Regions from separate parts of the Homo sapiens genome. Here region 1 is linked to region 2. Evidence: fine-mapped expression QTL. A gene starts in region 2. The other region holds a variant in brackets. All regions are shown on one strand. Distances are from middle to middle.

The links. PIP is the estimated chance that this variant, and not a neighbour inherited with it, causes the effect.
Region 1: its variant is the best candidate, but not a certain one, in a credible set for the expression of DNAH10 in coronary artery (GTEx, PIP 0.87).

Annotation. Positions count from the first base shown.
Region 1 is chr12:123,911,978-123,919,977 of GRCh38, forward strand. DNAH10 (dynein axonemal heavy chain 10) reads left to right here. Exons shown (of 79, transcript NM_001372106.1): 60 at 1,121-1,338; 61 at 2,352-2,573; 62 at 2,875-3,022; 63 at 4,480-4,759; 64 at 5,607-5,836; 65 at 6,699-6,972. Among named protein-coding and RNA genes, the nearest start is that of DNAH10OS, 19 kb to the right of the region's middle. RefSeq lists enhancers at 5,131-5,632, 5,804-7,003. The variant G/A (reference allele first, on the strand shown) is at 3,596.
Region 2 is chr12:123,758,242-123,766,676 of GRCh38, forward strand. DNAH10 (dynein axonemal heavy chain 10) reads left to right here and starts at 4,060. Exons shown (of 79, transcript NM_001372106.1): 1 at 4,060-4,309. The coding sequence starts at 4,096. It overlaps ATP6V0A2 (ATPase H+ transporting V0 subunit a2), which reads left to right. Exons shown (of 20, transcript NM_012463.4): 20 at 1-3,514. It overlaps LOC105370044 (a long non-coding RNA gene), which reads right to left. Exons shown (of 5, transcript XR_945481.4): 5 at 6,927-7,007. RefSeq lists a silencer at 3,641-4,060.

The sequences.
Region 1 (8,000 bases), 150 kb after region 2:
GGTCTGTCCTGGGGGGGGGTCTGTCCTGGGGGGGTCTGTCCTGGGGGGTCTGTCCTGGGGGGGTCTGTCCTGGGGGGGTCTGTCCTGGGGGGGGGTCTGTCCTGGGGGGTCTGTCCTGGGGGGGGGTCTGTCCTGGGGGGGTCTGTCCCGGGGGGGTCTGTCCTGGGGGGGGTCTGTCCTGGGGGGGGTCTGTCCTGGGGGGTCTGTCCTGGGGGGGGTCTGTCCTGGGTGGGTCTGTCCTGGGTGGGTCTGTCCTGGGGGAGTCTGTCCTGGGGCGGTCTGTCCTGGGGGGGGTCTGTCCCGGGGGGGTCTGTCCTGGGGGGGGTCTGTCCTGGGGGGTCTGTCCTGGGTGGGTCTGTCCTGGGGGAGTCTGTCCTGGGGGGGTCTGTCCTGGGGGGTCTGTCCCGGGGGGGTCTGTCCTGGGGGGGGTCTGTCCCGGGGGGGGTCTTTCCCGCAGGGGGTCTGTCCTGGGGGGTCTGTCCTGGGGGGTCTGTCCTGGGGGGGGGTCTGTCCTGGGGGGGTCTGTCCTGGGCACTATAGGATGTTTAGCAGCATCTTCAGCCTCACCCCACTGGATGCCAGCAGCACCCTCCCTCCAAGCTGTGACATCCAGAAATGTCTCCAGACAGTACCAAACGTCCCCTGGGGGACAAAACCTACCGCAGTTGAGAGCAGCGGGGCCAAAGTCACATGAAGATCACAAAATACAAAGAGAATAAGGTTAATTTGATCATTTTGAGTCATATTGTGACCTTGCGCTATAGCTCGGAATTGTATTATTCAGAAAGCTTGGAACCAATAGAAATACTGTTACTGTCTATGGTATATTCTTCTGAGTTTTTGACTTAGAACCACAGTGTCATCTTACGGAGACCTCAGTACATGAAAGTAAAACCATTTGATAACTTGGGTGCTGTGTCTTCTAATGGGACATGGAGTTTTTGCAGCAAACAGTCGAAGAAGAAACTAAGAAGCCACGTGTCTCAACATAGCATATAGAGGCTCTGAAAAGCACAGACACCATTAGAGCAGTTTAGACATGTGGCCTGGTTTGAGGCCATGGGATCGCGGCCCCACCACGGTCCTTTTCCCCATCTTTTTGCAAATTGTCTTCACTTAGGTGGCCAGGCTGGAGCGGAATTTTTACCTCACTAAACGGGAACTGGAAAGGATCCAGAATGAGTTGGCAGCAATTCAGAAAGAGCTGGAAACATTGGGTGCCAAATATGAGGCCGCCATACTGGAAAAGCAGAAGCTGCAGGAAGAAGCCGAGATCATGGAGAGGCGGCTGATTGCCGCAGACAAACTCATCTCGGGTCTGGGGTCAGAAAACATCAGGTTAGCGCTGCTCACGAGCCCACCTGTTGCGGTTTGTAAACGGACGTCACCCACAGAGTTTCTCGCCATGTTGATTCTTTATCTCACGTTGTGTTTTTATGTGAAAACCATGTGACCAGGTCTTATGTTCCTATTATCATGTTTATGGCAGCTAATGGCTATTTTATAGGCTCTTGTTTGTATTAGGCACTGAGTGTTATTTATTAATTACTAAGGGTCAAGGAGGCAGTGCAGCTGTGGAGACGGGGGAATCCATACCATTTAGCAGGGTGCTCTAGGTTTGGGAAGTGTTCACTTCTTGGTGACCTCTAACCCCTGGGTCTTTTCTAGAAGAGTCTGTGGGAGAAGCCCATCTCTGTCACCGCACAGATGCCTTCTAAGGGTCCCAGTGGCTTGTTCAATCCTGGGCTTCAGTCTTAAGTGATGGGGCTGTTTGATATTTATGGGCAAGACCGCTTGGCCACAGCTTATTCACCAAATAGGGCAACAATTTTGAATCTAGCATCTGTAAGTGTGGTGTAGAAAACACTGAAAAATGTTGTTTGCGTGTGGGAAACAATTTTCAGTATTTCTTAAACCTAAGTCTTGGGGCATTTACTGAAAGAGGACAAATGAAACAGACGCTTTCTTTTATCTTGGGTGGAATTCTGTCATTGAGTGAGGCCAGAACTTGTTAGCTCTGCCGGGCTGATTTATATGTCTTTGATTAAGGCTTCAGAAACAACGTGATTACTACTTAATATGATCCACGCAATGTGATTACTGCTTAATAAAGACCACAGGCCTTTACTGAGCCCCCTGCTTGATGCTGGCTCCAAATACCAGGTTCACTAGGGTGGGAAGTTGCAAGATAAGCTGTTGGTCTCTGTTCCTCACAAGGAAAGAATATCTCAAAACATGTTTCCATCTGGCTAGCCCTGTTAGCAAGGTATCAAGCTGGTTCTTCTGGAATGTTCCTTTTGGTTGTGGCCAGAAGGTAAACTCACGGCAGCCTCCCTCTCCTCCCGTGCCAGGTGGCTGAACGACCTGGATGAGCTGATGCACCGGCGCGTGAAGCTGCTGGGGGACTGCCTGCTCTGCGCGGCTTTCCTCAGCTACGAGGGAGCCTTCACCTGGGAGTTCCGTGACGAGATGGTCAATCGGATTTGGCAAAATGACATCCTGGAGCGGGAGATCCCCCTGAGCCAGCCTTTCCGGCTGGAAAGCCTGCTCACGGATGATGTTGAGATCAGCAGGTGTGTGGCACCCTGAGCCAGCAGGAGGGAGGGGACACCTTAGCACAGGGGGTCTACGTGGGTGTCACCCTGGGGGGAGGCAATGGCCTGGGGGGCATCACCAGGACCACAGTTGGCTCGACTGCATGGAAGTGGCCGGGCAAGCTGCAAACCCAGCACGGAGCCCTTCTCCCTGGCCTCTGAGGAGGCTTGTGTGGCCTGGGGATGGGTAGATTGTTCTGGAAGGCCAGTCCTACCACCCTTAGCCCTTGGCTCACAAATTGGTGAGAAAAATTCATTTCCCAATGGCTGTTTCTTCCAGATGGGGATCCCAGGGCCTTCCCCCCGATGAGCTCTCCGTTCAGAATGGCATCCTCACCACCCGGGCCAGCCGCTTCCCTCTGTGTATCGACCCCCAGCAGCAGGCCCTCAACTGGATCAAGAGAAAAGAGGAGAAGAACAATCTGCGGGTATGGTGGCTCCTCCCAGGGCGTCTTCTGCCCCCTATTCCTGTTCTCTGGAGAATGCCCCTCCCGCCTCCTGTACGTGGCAGTCCCTAGCCTCAGCGAGGCTGGGCTGAAATGCTTCCATCCTGACCCCCATGCGGAGCCCTCCCCCGGCTCCGCCTCCGCCTCCACCCCGTGGGTCTGCCAGGGCAGCTCAAACCGCCATGAACTCTGCCTCTCCCCTCGCAGGCTGTGAGCAACCTTAGCTTCGTGTTCCTCTGTCCAGTACGGGGTTCGTGGTCTGGGTGCTCAGTCACTATTTTTTGGAGCTGAGGTGGGGGATGGGGATGCAGGGGAGGAGAGGGGAGAGTAATGGCTTGATTGAGATGTAATTCACATACCACACCTTTCCCCCACTGAAAACATACAATTCAGTTTGAGTTTTAGTATATTTACAGAGTTGTATACCAATCACCAGAGTCAGTCTTAGAACATTTTTATTATCCCTGGAAGAAATGCTACATCCTTTAGCCATCACCCCTCCAGTCCTTCCGTTTCTCCCTCCCCGAGCCCCTGGCAGCCACTCATCTGCTTTCC[G/A]TCTGTGAATGTGCCTCCTCTGGACATTTCTTAGGAATGGACTCAGACGCTGTGTGGCCTTTTGTGTCTGGCGCCTTTCACTCAGCCTGATGTTTTCAAGGTCCGTCCTTGCTGTAGTGCATCAGGGCGTCATTCCTTCCTTGGGCTGAATGATATTCCGGTGTATGAACAGACACATTGTGTTCATCCATCCATTTGCTGAGGGACAGTTGGGTTGTCCTACTTTTTGGCTGTTTGAAGAATGCCGCTGTGAATGTTGGTGCACACGTTTCTATGTGGCCATGTGTTTTCAGTTCTCTTGGGGCGATACCTAGGAATGGAATTGCCGGGGCGGCCCAATCACTTTTTGCTGAGCTAATGAACAAATTAATTATTTTCAATTTAGCTTTTCCTCATTTTTTTCTGGTCCTTGATCTCAGGTATTTGCCTGCTGTTAGAGGAAGCCCATTTGTACTCCAAGGTCAGGGGAACAGTCTGCCTCCAAAATGCACATGGAGCTATCAGGGAGCAAATACTATGAGGGCAGGAACTTTTCTAGACTCCCTCTTCCCTCAGCCTGCCAGGGAGCACTGAAATTGTCAGCCTACCCCTAGTCCAATTCCAACATCTACCCTCTCTCTTAAAGAGGAGGGGTTCTAGCTTACGGGAGAGGGGCTGAGGAATCCCCTTCCTTTCCTCTCTACCCTGTTTGAGCAAGATCCTGCCCTGAGCCTGGACCTCATGGTGTATATGCGTTATACCCCTTGCTTCTCTCTTCTTTTCACCTCTGGCCCCCTCCAAGTTCCTGGCCCATCCACTTCCCACTTCCAAGCCATTCTCCCCTTATATTTGGCAGGGCCACAGTTAAACGTGGGCTTTCAGCATCTGCCTCCCTTCTCTTCCAGGTCGCTTCCTTTAATGACCCTGACTTCCTCAAGCAGCTAGAGATGTCCATAAAGTACGGGACCCCTTTCCTGTTCCGCGATGTTGATGAATACATCGATCCTGTGATTGACAACGTCTTAGAAAAAAATATAAAAGTCTCCCAAGGACGGCAGTTTATTATCCTGGGAGACAAGGAAGTGGACTATGATTCAAATTTCAGACTGTACCTGAACACCAAGCTGGCCAATCCCAGATATTCCCCATCCGTGTTTGGGAAAGCTATGGTGATCAATTACACTGGTAAGAATGTGTAGAACCTCCACTGCTAATTCAGATGGTTATGAGGGAGACCGCAACCTCAGATCAAGGCATTCATGGGACATCATTTCACTCAGTGACCCCAGATCATTCTCTCATAGGCACATCTGGACTAGTCAGCTCTTACCAATTAGGTACCACTTAGAAGGTGTGAGGCCATGAGTCACCTGTCATGAGTCACGCTGAGACGGGGCCGTGGGCTTATGTGTTCACACATGGGGTGGGATGGGACCTCTGACTGTGGGGGCAGGAAGTTACTCTATATTCGTGTATTTAAAATACATGTTGTGATGTTGAATTTTTTTTTTCTTCCTCTCAGTTGAATTCTGATAGAAATGGGATGTTATCTCTTACATTCTCTAGGGCTGTCATGCTCCTGCTTAAATAGGCTAATTTGATTTGGATGTACTTTCTTTTCTTTTTTCTTTTTCTTTTTTTGTACAGATGGGGTTTGTCTGTGTTGTCTGGGCTCAAACTTCTGGGCTCAAGTGATCCTCCTGCCTCTGCCTCCCAAAGTGCTGGGATTACAGGCATGAGCCACTGCGCCCAGTCTGGGTATACTTTAAACTATGGCACCCCAGTCCGTGGAAGCCTGGGTTTTATTTCAGTGTGTTTTTTCCTTTTTATCTGCCACTCTGCACCACAGCATCGCTGTTTTGCTCCTGCCTGCCACCTTGCTGCTCTAGAGTGACTTTGGTGGGCAGTGAATCCTCGTGCCTCTGGCCTGCTGGCTGAGACCCGCGCTAAGCTTGTCCCGTCACAGCAGGGCAGCGGGAGAGACTGTTGTTGGGGGCCGCAGGTGGTGAGGGCCTCTCACTGTCCCCCACAGTCACGCTGAAGGGCCTGGAGGACCAGCTGCTGAGCGTGCTGGTGGCTTACGAGAGGCGGGAGCTGGAGGAGCAGCGGGAGCACCTCATCCAGGAGACCAGCGAGAACAAGAACCTGCTCAAGGACCTGGAAGATTCCCTCCTTCGGGAGCTGGCCACGTCCACGGGGAACATGCTGGACAATGTGGACCTGGTGCACACCCTGGAGGAGACCAAATCCAAGGCAACAGAGGTAGCAACCACAGTGGAAGAGGCCGTGAGTCAGGCGGGGCCTGCATGCGCCGTTGGAGCGTCCATTTCTCTGTCTGCTCAATGAGAAAATGGGGCTCTGTGATCTCAGGGCTAAAAACCCACCTCTATTGGGATGTGCTGTGGGGAGGGGAGCCCTAAAGGTGTTCCCAGGGACCCTTGGGCATCAGGTCAGTCTCTTTAAATCGAGAGTGATAGAAAATCCAGCCCTGCCTGGCTTAAGTCAAAAGGGAAGTTATCAGCTGAGAAAGCAGAAAAGTTCAGAGATGGCCTCAGGTGGGGCTGGATCCAGGACTTCAAAAATACCAGGAGGACCTGGTTTCTGTCCATTTCTGGGCTGGGCCTTCTACTGGGTTGGCGTCATTCTCTGCCAGCTCCCCACATGGTCATAAGACTGGTCTGGCCTCACGTCCTCTCGGGTCCAAACCCAAAGGGGTAAGTGAGAATCTTCCTGTTCCTACCGTGAAGGTCCTGAGAGTCACTTAGGTCACGTTTCTACCCCAAAGCAGCCCTGGGAGCTTGGGGATGCTAGGCTCAGGTTAGCTGGCCCTGGGTCACATCTCCTGGAGTCGGGGTGGAACCCCATATGGGAAGAAAAGGGAGAGGGCAGTACCGGAGACTTACAAGCAGTGTTACTAGGGGAAGGGGCCATGGGTGCAGGGGCGTCAGCCACAAATATTCACCCCTTCCTACAAGAGGGTGGGTGCCCTCGCTCCCCTGCAGTCCCTGGATACTTTCAAAGCCCTGAAGCATTGTACATACCTCTCTGCTGTCCCCCTGCCCCTCCTGCCCTCTGCCCACATCTCAGTCTTCCTGTTTCCAGGGTCACCTGTGCTTTTCTTCAGGTCTCAGAGAAACTCAAGCTGGCGGAGAAGACAGCCTTGGACATCGACAGGCTGCGGGATGGCTACCGGCCAGCAGCCAGGAGGGGGGCCATCCTGTTCTTCGTCCTGTCTGAGATGGCCCTGGTGAACTCCATGTACCAGTACTCCCTGATTGCCTTCTTAGAGGTCTTCAGGCTGTCACTGAAGAAGTCGCTGCCTGATTCCATCCTCATGAAACGCCTGAGGAACATCATGGACACGCTGACCTTCAGCATCTATAACCACGGCTGCACAGGTGAGCTCTCCCCACAGAGGAGGACATGTTAGTGTAGTTTGGTGTGCCAGACGTGGCTTTAAGGAAACGTGATCTGTGAAAATGGAAAGTTACCAAATAGCATTTTTTCTTTTTTCTTTCTTTCTTTCTTTTTCTTTTTTTTTTGAGATAGGGTCTTGCTCCATCACCCAGGCTGGAATGCAGTGGTGCGATCACGGCTCACTGCAACCTCCACCTCCCAGGCTCAGGTGATCCTCCTACCTCAGCCTCCAGAGTAGCTGGGACTAAAGGCACGCCACCACACCCAGCTAAGTTTTTGTATATTTTGTAGAGATGGGGTTTCACTATGTTGCCCAGGCTGGTCTCGAACTCCTGAGCTCAAACGATCCACCCACCTTGGCCTCCTGAAGTGCTGGGATTACGAGGTGTGAGCCATCATGCCCAGCTCCGAATGGCATTCTTGAGTCTGGCGATTCATGTTACAAGAGGAATGTTTAAAGCACTGAATTTTAAGATAGCAGCTTTATTGAGACACAATTTACATACCATAAATTCGTCCTTTAAAAATATACCATTCGGTGGTGATTCATAGCATATACATAGAGTTGTGCAGCTATCACTACTCTCTGGCTCCGGAACGTTTCCACCAGCCCCGAAATGAAATCCCATACCCATTAGCAGTCACCCCCTGGCCCCCCACTCCTAGTCCCTGGCAGTCACCGCTCTGCCTTCCATCTGTAAGGATTTACTTGCTCTGAACACTTCATGTCAATGGCATCATACGGTGTGTGACTTCATGACTGGTATCTTTCACTCCACTCCGTGACCTCACGGTTCATCCGTGTTGCTGCGTGTGTCAGCGCTTCATTCCTGCCTGTGGCTGAGTCACATTCCATGTATGGACAGACCGCACTGTGTTTATCCACCCGTCACCTGATGGGCATTTGGGTTGTTTCGCTTGTTTTGCTATTAAGGCAATGCTCCTGTGAACATTTGTGTGCAGGTTTTTGTGTGAATGTGTGTTTTTAATTCTCTTGGGGGTATATCTA
Region 2 (8,435 bases):
TTTATGATGAGCAAATATAAGTTAATGCCAAACGTTATGTTAAAGTTATTTTTTCAAATACAGGATTTGGGGAGAGAAGCCAATTTTGCATGGCTAGTTGAAAATGGTATTAGATACTTATTTCCTTTAAACTTTATTTAAAACAAACAACAGAGTTAATCTGTCACCTGAAGTTGCCAGATAATATTTTCCAACAGCTGAAGTAGGGATAGTTTTTTAAAAAATTTAATGATGGGTAATCAAAACATTCACATTTATTCTGCTGGATTTAAAAATATGTACTTTTTTTTTTTTTTTGAGATGAAGTCTTGCTGTGTCACGTAGGCTGGAGTGCAATGGCACGATCGTGTCTCATTGCAACTTCCGCCTCCTGGATTCAGGTGATTCTCCTGTCTCAGCCTCCCGAGTAACTGGGATTACAGGCATGCGCCACCGTGACCAGCTAATTTTTTTGTATTTTTGTAGAGATGGGGTTTCACCATGTTGGCCAGGCTGGTCTCGAACTTCTGACCTCAAGTGATCCACCTGCCTCGGCCTCCCTAAGTGCTGGGATTACAGGCGTGAGCCACCATGCCTGGCCAAAATATGCAAATATTTTTTATCCTGTGCTACCTAGAATTACAAGTAGAGGATTGTTTTTACAATTTTGTCTTGTTTTAGTAATTGGGGACAATGGGATAAAATGACATACAACAAATGGTTATCCCACTTGTATATTTTTTTAAAGACTCTTATCCTGTTACCCTTACATAAAACCAGTTATGATAATTGTATGTTTGGAAGATAAATTGTATGCTGAGCCTTAAAACCCAGTGTGACTGTAGAAGATATAATGCGGACATGATTTGAATTTAGTGACAGCTTGGCTGATGTCACTGAACCAGAAGGGTTTATACTGAGTGAAGGAAAGGTAAAAAGTAGTATTTTGTATATTTTTGTAACAAAATATAAATGAAGATATTTTACCATGAAGAGATTGCACTTATCCTTGAGAACAGTCTAAATATAAATGAAGATATTTTACCATGAAGAGATTGCACTTATCCTTGAGAACAGTCTAATGATACTTTTTTTACTTTCAGACTGTTTCTAGCTAAAGTTCTGATAAAAGTATTGAGTTAATTTAAACTTTCAAACACTGTTTAGATCAGTTGAAAACTAATTCTTAATAGCCATTGTTTTATAATCTTTAGTTTAAATTCATCTGTTTGACATTTGGTTTTTTGTGAACTTGAGTCAGTCCTATTGAACATTTTGACCTATATTCTTGCAAATTATGTTAATTTTTCATATTTTAGTTTGATTTTAGACAATTATTTTCAAAAAGAAACCTGACTTTTTTTCACCTTCTTGACATTGTGAGTGATACACGTTAAAAGGCTATTTGCCCGCATCCTCCTCTATCCTGTTTCGAGGTAGAGAGCTTGGCACTTCTGTTACAAGCTGAGAGTCTGGAGGTGCTGAGTTTAACGTGGCTGTGCAGCTGATTTCAAGGCATGAGCTGAACAGCGTTGACACAGCCGTGACTTACAATTAAACCCTTTCAATTACAGTACAGATTCTGTGTGCTACTTGATGAGATGTTACCCAAGGCCAGTTTGGACTTACTGCTTTTTGTCCCTCATATTAAATTATCAAATGATGCCGATGAAATGCTTGAAAATGATTCTGCTCTCAAAGTTATGCTTCCCTAGAAAGGTGTCATGTCGGGCACTTGTGTTGGGTGACTATGACATCCCAGCAGTGCTGGTCAGGTCTCAGAGTTGCTTTCACCTAGAGCTGATGCTTCCACAAGGGGACATTTGTGTTACTTTGCTCCAGGGGTCTGTCATAAAAACAATGGTAACTACTTCATCCCTAGGAAGCCCAAGACTTCAGGGCACTGTTAGCTGATTGGTAAATAAGGGACACGATATTCACGGGAATTGTTTACTGCTCCCCACTAGTAATTCTCATGGGGCCACTTTTTTAACTCTTTCTAATTAACACCTCTTCTCAGCATAGAGCAGAGGATGCAGTCATTTCTCTGTTGAAATCTATGTAGTATTTATGTAGAATGTCATTATATGAAAAGCGAATTCAGAATCCTAACTCTGGGAAAGCGCTCTCTGGAAATGTAGTTTGATAATAGTGTCTTATAGGGGCCACGGGAATTTGTTTCTCTATAAAGCGATGGGCTCCAGTGTCATGTTACCAGAGTTATCGCTCAGTTTTGTTTGTTAAGGCTTTTGCTAGAACCTATTATGTATCCAGTTTTTAAAACATACTTCATTCCCTTGATAGCAGAGATCCAGAGCACAGATGGCAAGTTGTGTGGATGATACTGAATATGTTTATTTTCCTAAAGATAAATGTCACGACACGACATTTCTCAGTTTTTATTTAGATGTTTATTACCATGTGTTAACAGAATCTTAAAACCCAAGGGATTTCTTCAGTAAACTAGACTTTGATTCAACCTGCTGGGCTGGAGACTGTAATTGCCGTGGTCAGTTAAGGAGTGCAAAGGGTGTTCTGTCTGATAGGATCTGGGTGAGCCCTGCGGACTTTCCAGCAGCGAAAGGACTTGGAACTCCTCTTTCGCTGAATGCTGCTCTGTTTCTGGAATGGATATTTTATAACAACATTCTGGTGTCAGCATCCCCTCAGCAGTTGTTTATTTAAAAATTTTTTTATTTTTTTTGAGACAGTGTCTCACTCTGTCACCTAGGCTGAAGTGCAGTGGTGCAGTCTCGGCTCACTGCAACCTCTGCCTCCTGGGTTTAAGCAATTCTCCTGCCCTAGCCTCCCGAGTAGCTGGGATTACAGGCGCCTGCCACAGTGCCCGGCTAATTTTTGTATTTTTAGTAGAGACAGGGTTTCACCATGTTGGCCAGGCTGGTCTCAAACTCCTGACCTCAGGTGATCTACCCACCTTGGCCTCCCAAAGTGCTGGGATTACAGGCGTGAGCCACCGCGCCTGGCCCTCTGCAGTTGTTTAATAAGGCACAGAATACCTGTAGCATAGGTCAGCCTTACGATGTCCATGAATTACATATTCAGACGTTTTAGAGCCTGATACATTTTGGAAAAGAAAAACAACTTCTACACCTATTCTACAGTCCGCATTTAAAACAATAAATTCCTCTATTAAAAACGTAAAGCCGGGTTTGCTTGCGTGCCACAGGGAATATATCCAGGAAGGTTATTATGAAGCTGTCAAATCAAGATGATGGGAATAAGGCAGTTTGAACGAACAGTCTTCCCACAGTCAGGCCATTTTTGCTGATTTGGTTTAGAATTTTCAGAAATACTTAGTACACTCCACCTGTTCTTTGATGGGAATATCTAAGAAGGCTAGGTAGGTTCTTAGGGTTAGCCTGAGTCATCTAGGGGCTCAACTCCTTGTGAGGGGAAATGACAGTGAACAAGTTAGTACTTTGCTCCACAAATGCATGAAAGGACAAATTTGCATCTTCTATCAGTATTTAACTTCCTTTTGCTAATGACAAATAAATATATCTATATTTTTAAACGTGGGTGTTTTGCTTTATTATGCTCTAGTTTGGCAAGAAAGCTAAAGAACTCTGCTCCTTCCCTGATTTTGTAGGCCATGAGGAACTCGTGCTTTCTCGGCTTATTTCCTCCTCGTCTGGCCTCTAATCCCGCCTCTGCCACCGCCGAGGTGCTGTGACCTTCGTCTCGCCAACTCTCTAGCCCCAGCTTCATCTGCAAGGTGGGCGGGCTGCTTGCAAACCGGTCGGCGTGGGGTGGGGTCGCACCCTCGGCTGCAGCGGCCCGAGGGCGGCTCCTGGCGGCGAGGGTCCCGCTCCGCATCCAGGGGCGTGCGCGCTGCCGGGGCCAGGGAGCAACCAGCCTACCTCGGCGGCCCGGGGGCCTGGTGCGCGCCTCCGAGATCCCGGGGCCGGGGCGTGGGCTGCGGCTCGCGGGTTCGGGATCGAGGGGCCGGGCGCGGGGCACTGCCGAGCTTGCAGCCCCCAGCGCCGGCGCCGTCGGCGGGGCGAGCTGCGGCCGTTTCCGGGGCGCCCATTGCTAGGGCCGCCGTTGCCACGGACGCCCGCCCTGCGCCCGGCTCCCTCTGCACTGCGCGGCGCCATGGACGACCTGCGGGTGCTGTGGATGCGCGACCGCGTGTATGCGGCTTTCGGCATCACCGACCCCCAGCTTTTCGAGGACCTGCTCAACCGCGACGACGGCCAGGGCGAGGACCTCATCTTGCACTTCCTCAACCAGGCGAGCGAGGAGGAGGGGCCCTCGGCGCTCTTCATCTACCGCACTATGGTGCCGGAGGAGGTGGAGGTGGAGATTGGTGAGCCTCGACGCGCCGCTCCCTTCCCCGGGCTTCCCTCCTGCCCGTCCCGGCCTCTCCGGCGGGCGCCGGGGCTGCTAGAGCCTGCCCATCGTCCGGCCCCGGCCTCAGGTGCTGTCCACAAACGCTGCCGCCCGCCACGTGCAGGCCCCGGGCGAACCCAGCAATCACAGCCGTCCCTGCCCTCCTGGGCCCACAGCCCACTTGAAAGTCAGGCCTTGATTGAAAAATCACAGCAAACACTGACTTAGCCCGCACCCCGTGCCAGGTGCGGTTCCAACGCTTGTATCAACTCCTTAACCCTACGAGGCGGGTGTATCCTCATCCCTATTTTACAGATGAGCAAACTGGCACGGAGGGGGTTAAGTAACCTGCCCAAGGCCCACGGGGCGTCAAGATCCACTGTGCAATAATCCGAACGGCTGGGTAGAGCCATGCCCAGGTGTGGCAGGGACCCAGGTCACTGTCACTCTCCTTGACGGTCGCAGCCTCTCACGGAGGGTCCGAAGAGCACCCCTTTCTACTTCTGGAGGCTCCTTATATCCTAAAAAGTAAAATAAGGCTAGGACAAAGTTTAAAAACTACAGTAGACTTTAAATGTTTATGTTGAACAAATTAGCATCGCAAATACAAAAAGACAGTGACCAGGGTCCCAGAACCCTCTGTGGAGGCGGATCCCCAGCCCCACCTACTCTCTGATAGGCCAGGGACACTGAGAGGGCAGGGAGGGGCCAGCACAGGTGAGAGGAGGAGGCAGGACAACTCGCTTCAGAAACAGCTAGAAGGAGACTGGGACCTCGAAAGCCGCCTCCTCGCAGGAGCACCAGCTGGAGCACAGCTACCGGGACCTCCTGCCTGGCTGTCCAGTCTCCTGGGCTACTTTTCCAGCCCCTTAAGGACTTGGGGATCCCTTGCAGGGCCTCTCACTGGGTTCGGGTGGCAGGGCCGGCAGACCTTTGATTTTTTTTTTAAAGGTACCAGGCAGATTCATTTATTGTATTCTATTTTTTAACTTTTTTTTTTTTTTTTTTGAGATAGGGTCTCACTTTGTCACCCAGGCTGGAGTGCAGTGGTGCGATCTTGACTCACTGCAACCTCTGCCTCCAGGGCTCAAGTGATTCTCCCACCTCAGCTTCCTGAGTAGCTGGGACTACAGGTATGCGTCACCATGCCTGGCTAATTTTTATATTTTTGGTAGAGACAGGTTTCACCATGTTGCCCAGGGTGGTCTCAAACTACTGAGGTCAAGTGATCCTCCCGCCTCGGCCTCCCAAAGTGCTGGGATTCCAGGTGTTAGCCATCTGGCACCTGGCCACTTCTTTTTTTTTTTTTTGAGACAGAGTCTAGCTCTGTCGCCAAGGCTGGAGTGCAGTGGTGCAATCTCGGCTCACTGCAACCTCCACCTCCCTGGTTCAAGCAATTCTCCTGACTCAGCCTCCCAAGTAGCTGGGATTACAGGCACCCATCACCATGCCTGGCTGATTTTTGTATTTCTAGTAGAGACAGGGTTTCACCATGTTGGCCGGGCTGCTCTTGAACTCCTGACCTAAAGTGATCTGCCCACCTCGGCCTCCCGAAGTGCTGGGATTACAGGTGTGAACCATCGCGCTTGGCCACCTTCATTTATTTTAAATATTCATTATTTGCTTGCACAAAATAAAACGCCTTCATCATAAATCCAAAACCATAAATAAACAACAATAACAAATCCCTAGTGCCATCTGGAGAGAGGACCACGTGATCACGTTTTGGAATTTAACCTTCCAGCCTATTATTTTTTTCTCCCTGGCAGACCTTTGGACCTGAACATTAGATTATAACTGGACCTCGGATGTAGGCACTTTCATTGGCACCAAGTGAAATTATGGAAACCAAAAACACACTCGCAGGATTGACCGTTTAACATGTACCACCACTGCAGGAACTCGGGTTTCGTTTACATTAAAAAAAAATTACAAGACCCTAAAACAATGGATGTGACTTGGATTTCTTGCAGAAGCCCTCCAAGGGCCTCTGTTAACGGTGGGGTGGCTGTTGTCTGCTGTGTTTACTAGCACGTGTTTAGCCCAAATGTCATCCAGTGTGGAAGCAGAGTTCAGTCTCACCTCAGAGGGTCCCCCTGGTTAATTCCTGGACCCTCCAAAGGGAGCTCAGAACTCCCCCACCCCGCCCCCTGACCCGTTTCTGGGCTGTCTCTGTCCCTGGTCTTCCCTTCCATTCCCGTCCCTTCTCCACTATCACCTCATGGTGAAAAGCTGATGGATTCCTCGCCGAAGATGCTGTCTCTGGAAACTCTCAAAGCTGCCGATTCTGGAGGTGCCAGATGGCGTCGGGTGTTGGGGGTTCTGGCCAGGTGGGGAGAAGAGACCTCATCCCCAACTCCACACGTTGTCACTCACTCTCTGCTTGTTAAACCTACAGGCTCATATAACCCTTGAACAGTTTCCCTAGATTATTTTTGGGGGACAGGTGGTTCTGGTCTGTTCAGAGGACCTGCAGAGAGCCCAGCGTGTCCTTTGTTTCCTTTTTTTTCCTCTTTCTGCCCCCCTTCCCCGGTCAAGATTTCTCTCTGCTCCTGGTTAAAAATGATAGGAATGGAGACAAGCAGATACTGGGGCAGGTGGTGGTAATAAAGGCGAGGTGTCCTTCCGGGCAGCAGATACCCAAGATACTGATGCAGTAGGTACATGTGTTCCTTCTGGAAAAAACAAAACGGAATCGTACTGTACATATCATTTAGTAACTTCCTTACATTTAAAGAAATTACACAAATACTGCCATAACACATGTTCTCTTATGAATTCACAGAACATAGAATTACATATAAAAAGAAAAAGCAACGCTTCTCCATCCCTTAAGCCCCAGTCCTGCTCTTATTCCTAGGGGTAACCACTATTATTAGTTTGGTGTGTTTCTGGTTGGCTCTTTTGTCAAATTATCAGTCAATCAATCAGCCAATCACCTACCAACCGACTGATCTGTCTCCCTACCTTCCTATGCATCTATCTATACTTTATCTATCTATCTATCTATCTATCTATCTATCTATACATACCTCTATCTATACATCTATTTATCTATCTCCTGTCTACCTACCTACCTATACATCTATCTCTCTCTATTATCTATCTACCAACTGACCAATCTGTGTGTCTATCTACCTATCATTCACCTATCATCTATCCATCTATCAATTATCTACCAATCTACCTACCTACCTATACATCTATCTATCTCTGTCTATACATCTATCTACCTACCTACCTATACATCTATCTCTATCTATATATCTATCTACCTACCTACCTATACATCTATCTGTCTGTCTCCTGTCTACCTACCTAATTACCTATACATCTATCCCTCTATTATCTACGTGCCAACTGACCAATCTGTGTGTCTGTCTACCTATCACTTACCTATCATCTATCTATCCATCTATCAATTATCTACCAATTTATCTACCTACCTATACATCTATCTCTGTCTATACATCTATCTACACATCTGTTTATCTGTCTATACATCTATCTATACATCTATCTATCTATACATCTGTCTGTCTATCTATCTATACATCTATCTCCTGTCTACCTACCTACCTATACATCTATCTCTCTCTATCTATACATCTATCTATCTATGTACCTACCTACATGTCTGTTTATCTATCTGTCTGTCTGTCTATCTCTGTCTGTCTAGGCATAAGGTCAGGGCTGTTGAGATCAATTAATCAGCCTACCTACCTACCTACCTACCTACCTGCTTGTCATCTATATCTGTCTATCCTTGTTCCATCTACAGTCTATATTTCTCTCTATAATGATAATATATGGATATATAGAGTTCCTAAAACTATAAATATCATACTATATATACATATTATTTTGTGACTTCTCCCCCCACCACATGTTTTGGTTATTTTTTCATGCCAATTCCTATAGTTCTACCTAACTTGATAGATTTAAATACATAGATGTACCACATTCTACTCATCCATTCTCTAATTAATGGACACTTAGCTTTTCAGAGTATTCATTCTACAAACAATGGAATAATGTCTGTCTATCCTTGCATACTTTGTGTATTTCTGGAGGATAGATTTATAAAAATGAAATGCATCTGT